Regions from separate parts of the Homo sapiens genome. Here region 1 is linked to region 2. Evidence: fine-mapped expression QTL. A gene starts in region 2. The other region holds a variant in brackets. All regions are shown on one strand. Distances are between the middles of the regions.

Region 1 (2,917 bases), 23 kb before region 2:
GTTTGACAGGCACTGGGCCACTTCCAACCATAATCCAAGCCAGAGATGTGATATACACCAATTCTTAGCCAATGGTTGGCCCCTGTATGAAATTGGCTGCTAGGAAAAATAAGACCAACACTTGACCAGCGCTGATATCTTGTGGTGGCTATTTGTCTTGGTCAGCTTGTACTACCATAACAAAATACCATAGAATGGGTGGCTTAAAAAACAAATTTGTTTTCTCACAGTTTGGAAGCTAGACGTCTGAGATTAGGATGCCAACATGGTCAAGTTTGGTGCCTTCTCACTGTGTCACCATGGGGGGTGGGGGTGGCGATGGGGTAGGAGAGAGAGAGAGAGAGAGATTGAATCTTCCTCTTCCTATAAGGCCATAGTCCTATGGGTCTTAGGGCCCCACCCTTATGACCTCATTTTACCATAATGACCTCCTAGACCCTATCTCTAGATACAGTCACACTGGGGGGTTAGGGCTTCAACATATGAATTCTGGGGGACATAACTTAATCCAGAGCAAAAGTGATTCCCAGGCCAGGTGCAGTGGCTCAAGCCTGTAATCCCAGCACTTTGGGAGGCAGAGGCAGGTGGATCACTTGACATCAGGAGTCAAGACCAGCCTGACCAGCATGGTGAAATCCTGCCTCTACTAAAAATACAAAAATTAGCCAGCCATGGTGACACATGCCTGTATTCCCAGCTACTTGGGAGGCTGAGGCACGAGAGTCACTTGAACCCAGGAGGTGGAGGCTGCAGTGAGTTAAGATCATGCCACTGCACTCTAGCCTGGGTGACAGAGTGAGACTCTGTGTCAAAAAAAGAAAAAGAAAAAAGTCATTCCCAAACCTCTCTTCCACTCCAGAGGCTGAAAAAGTTAAAACATTCATTTTCCCAGTCTCTTCTGGAGTTGGCAGTGGTCATGAAAAACACAATAATGCATGAGTGGAATTCTGCTGGGGAGATGAAGGGGGTTCTGGAAAGAAAATGTGCTTTCTTGATAAAAGGAGCGGATGTGACCAGTCCACACCATCTGTTTCTCTCTCTTCCTCCCCTGAATCAGGATGTGATATCTATGGCTTTTGCAGCCACTTTAAAACCAAGAGGCACAGGAGAAAATTTCTGCAGTGACAACAGCCTTGATGTCACTGAGACTCTAACCCAAATGCTAGTAGTAGTTGCTCATATTCAGACTGGCTAAGAACAAATAAATGCCTATTTGTATATGGCTCTGTAAGCTGAAGTTTTGCTAGACACAAATGAATGTGCTATGATACTTACCCTCTGTGTATGTCTGTGATATCATCTATATAATGGGAATAATAACTATCTACTGTTGTTGTGGGAG[G/A]CGGGGGCTTTAATGAGAAGCTGTTCAAAGTATTGAAATAGAGATTGGCACATAGTAAATCCTCAACACTAGCACCGTTATGTAGTAATACAAGACACATTTATTTATACTGTTTTTTACACTCCTAAAATCATCACAATTAATTCTCAAATAAATGCAAACAAGAAGCTAAAGGAAATAGAGACAGATATGTGGGGACAAAAAATAGCAGCAGATTTAGAGTCAGGAGACCCAGGTTCAGAATGTCTGATAATAAGGAAATGATCATGTAAACAAAGGCGCATCCAGCCCATGAACTGCATATGCACCCATTTAAAATAAATAAAAAGACCATGCAAGGACATGAAGAAAAGCATACTATAAAATGTTAAACAACAGAACACAGAACACAGATACACAAATTAAAGATAATCCCAATCGTGTAAAAGAAAAAAAAGTGAAAATGAAAAGAAATAACCCAAAATGGTAATCTATAAGTGTATAGATAACTTTTTTCTCCTATGATTTTCTGAATTCTCTAAATTTCCAGTAAAAAAAATCATAATTTCATAATTTAAAAATTTTAATAACTTCAAATTTTCTCTTTTATACTTTCCCATATTTTCAAACTTATTTGCCATAAATTCATATTACATATATAAGAAGAAAAATAAGTTTTAAAATAAGGAAATATGGCCAGGTGTGGTGGCTCACAACTGTAATCCCAGCACTTTGGGAGGCTGAGGCAGGTGAATCACTTGAGGTCAAGAGTTCCAGAGCAGCCGGGCCAACAAGGCAAAACCCCATCTCCACTAAAAATACAAAAACTAGTCAGGCATGGTGGTGCATGCCTGTAGTTCTAGCTACTCAGGAGGCTGAGGCAGGAGAATTGCTTGAATTCGGGAGGCAGAGGTTGCAGTGAGCCGAGATCGCACCGTTACACTCCAGCCTGGGTGACAGAGAGAGACTGTCTCAGAAATAAAATAAATAAATAAATAAATAAACATGTGCTGATCAGAGACAGTGGAATCTGACCAGTCTTAGGAGCATTGCAGGACCCAAAGAAAAAGCACATATGGCTTCTCAATTGTCACATATTTTAAAGTATAACTGTGTCCTTGGGGTGGAATTGGTCATGGACGGGGGCTCACTCCTGCTGACCAAAGGCACAGGTGGAGGAATAAGTCAGAGTGGGCCTCAATGCATGCTCTTCTGTTTTCAGTCACACTGCAGAAACAGAGGCAAAAGATTTTTTTTCTTTCCTTCCTTCTAAGTTCATGTATATTTGTATACATTTTTTAAGTAAAAATGATCTTTTTGCTATAGGGATTTTGGTTTTGAGGCTCCACGTCACCAGTTACCAGCTATATGGCACGGGGCACAGATACGTTGCAAAATCTTTTGAAAATTCCACTTTCCTATCTCTAAAATTAGGATTATGAAAAGAGCTATGGCCAGGCACAGTGGCTCACGCCTGTAATCCCAGGACTTTGGGAGGCTAAGGCAGCCAGATCACTTGAGGTCAGGAGTTCGAGACCAGCCTGGCCAACATAGCGAAACCCTGTCTAGTAAAAAATACAAAAATTAGCCAGGCGT
Region 2 (2,917 bases):
CACAAATAAAATAAAGGACACTGCACTTTGGGAGGCCGAAGCGGGCGGATCACCTGAGGTCAGGAGTTCAAGACCAGCCTGGCCAACGTGGCGAAACCCTGTCTCTACTAAAAATACAAAAATTAGCCAGGCATTGTGGCGCGCATCTGTAATCCCAGCTACTCTCGAGGCTGAGGCACAAGAATTGCTTGGACCCAGGAGGCGGAGGTTGCAGTGAGCCGAGATCTTACCACTGCCCTCCAGCCCGGGCGACAGGCCGGGAGCAAGACTCCATCTCAAAAAGAAAAAGAAAAAAAAGAAAGAAAGGACACTGAATGTGAAGGTCTCAAATGACAAGAAAATACCGTAATACAATAATTAAACCCATTGAGGCATCAAGAAAGAAAAGTGACACTGTTTGCCAATTAGTATACAAGTCAGGTTCAGTATGTAAAAGATTCTTTTTAAAAAAATAGAAAATTTAAAAAAAATTCTTACTATCCAAAGACAAGATTGAAATTGAGAATAGGAACACAATAAACAAAAAGTAATAGCCATAGTCTTCCAACCCTGAAACCTCCTAAGAGCACCATATTTACTGTCCAATATTTTCATGCTATTGTCACTGCAAGAAAGTTTATGACTTGCTAAATAGAGACCACAGTCTACAACTCCAGGTTTAAAGCATATTATTTTATCATCCATAGAGATTCTAAACCACTTCCTGACCCCACTCTATCCCCCCCCACCCTGAAAATAACAAAAGGTTAAAAATATGTCCCTTTTGAAAATGGAGCCACATCTTTACTAAAGCACTGGAAATATCTCCAAGTCACTGACATTTTTATATTTCTAGACCATGACAAAAGTCTCACCTACTTGATTCTAATGTCATTTCAATATGCCTTAAACATCTTGATTATATCTTTAATGTGCCATTTACTCTGCAATAATCCACTGTACAAAAGCCTGCTGCCTCTCAAACAGAAGATAAGTACATAATAAATCAGCTTGCAATGATTATTTTTTCCCAGCTCATACTCACAGCGAGCTCCTAAAATTTCATTTTATTTTATCATTTCCAATTCAGCCGCTGTTCTCCCCCTCCTCGTTGTGCTACTGTCTCCTGTCCATCCTGTCCACCCTTTGGCATGCCTTCCGGCCCAGGGTTTACCACTCCAATCGGCCCTGCTGGTGCCATCCAGGAAAGGAAGAGCGGTCAAGCGTCTTGGAGAAAGAGCATCTTTCTGGAGAGACTCTTATTTGCTGGGGTAGAGGAAGGCAGCTAAGGCCTATTTGCATATGCTTTTATTCCATTTCCACACCCTGCACGCTAACCCTCTCTGGAAAGTCCCTTCTAGATCCCTCCTCGGCACAGCGAGGGAGGAAGAGGCTGGGCCGGAATGGAAGGTTCCAGCCTGGCAGTGTCAGCTTCTCTCCGCGGAGCTGAGGGGGAAGCCTCCACCTTCCCCATCATGCGTGCAGGGTCTGGACCCCCGGGTCGGGGACCCTCTTGCAGCACGTGTCAGGAGCAGCCTGGTGCTTTGGCCTGCGCGCTCTAGAGCGTTCTGTGCAGGATGCGCCTGCTCCCCTGCAGCCTCCCCCGAGGAAGTTCTGGTCAGGCGCTGGGTCCCCAGGCTTCCTGTCTGTACTCTCCGCAGCCCCGCGGGGAAATCCCGAGAGCTTTATCGGCTGCCCAATGAGCCTGTTGGCTTTTCAAGTGCGCGCAGGCTGAGTTTCAGCCAAAACCTCAATTTAAACGTTAACCAAAAATAAATAAATAACATGTGTGCAGGCATTTAAAAAGAGAGACTGCCTTTGGGGAGAAGATCAGGCAGAAAGCTCCCTTGTTTCATTGCTGCAGATACACGAGGCCTGGATTTGCTCACCCTTTGAACAAAGGGATTCTTTGAACTGTAAACTGACCTGGCAGGCGGAACACTGAGAAATCTTCCTGAGCACCTTTCTCTGGAAATGTGAACATTCAAGGCAGTCTTGTGTGTCAGCTAAAGAGAACAGTCATAGCTAAATTTTAATGGGCACCTACTAGGCACCAGGCACTCTGCTAAATGTATCACGTGCATCATCTTCCCTAATCCCACAGCAATCATCCATAGCAGGTAGCCCGAATTATTATCTCCATTTTGTGATCCCCTTTTACTCATAAGGGAATTTTATCTTTGGTGAGGTTAGGGGGACTTGCCTAAGGTCACACAATTAGTAAGTGTTTCCATGGGTGCCCTTAGCTGCTCCTTTTCCCAAACTGGAAAGAACGTACAAGGCCTTTGGAATGTGCAACTGCAAATTCAAATTCCCAGTCGAGAAAATATAGCTTCCTTTCCTTGGTCACGTGCTCATGGACCGAAAAAGACCAGCTCAAAGGATTTTGCTTCCAGGCAGATGTAGTCACTTTCCTGACCTCCCCTGAAGGTTTTTGTTGCTTATCTTGCTGAGCTCCCAAAAGGTTTGTTTGAACGTCTACTATAGATAACGTTTTTAAAAGCAAATATTTATTGAGCAATTGTTATACACCAGACACTGTTCATAAAAACATGTTCTTATTTAATACTCCTAAGAACCCTAAAAAGCAGATACTATTCTTAGATTAGAAATGAGGAAACCGAGGTTCCAAGAGAGTCGAAACTTGCCAGAGTTCACATAGCTAGAAAATATCAGAGCCAGGATTTGAATTGAGGTTTCCTGTCCCCAAATCTCTGAACCTGGTACACTGCATTACTCTGCCTCTCAAGGGGTCCACATCAAAACTATTTCCTTGTGTGAGATTCTCTCCCATTGGAAGGGAGTTCCTTGGGGGTTTGGGGTGGACCCAGGTATCTGAGTGGGCTCTGGGCATACCTTCAAGCACTCCAGCATCTGCTGAAACCGGGTGGGTTGATGGAAGGGAGGAAGCATAAGGGTGACCAGAAGAGTTAAGGGC

Evidence for each region.
Region 1: its variant is fine-mapped to the expression of MIR3142HG in whole blood (TOPMed, PIP above 0.99).

The regions. Positions count from the first base shown.
Region 1 is chr5:160,489,754-160,492,670 of GRCh38, reverse strand. No RefSeq gene overlaps it. Among named protein-coding and RNA genes, the nearest start is that of MIR146A, 5.9 kb to the right of the region's middle. The variant G/A (reference allele first, on the strand shown) is at 1,343.
Region 2 is chr5:160,466,548-160,469,464 of GRCh38, reverse strand. It overlaps MIR3142HG (MIR3142 host gene), which reads right to left and starts at 1,214. Exons shown (of 2, transcript NR_132748.1): 1 at 1,025-1,214. RefSeq lists enhancers at 1,110-1,269, 1,300-1,529, 997-1,633, 1,634-2,270.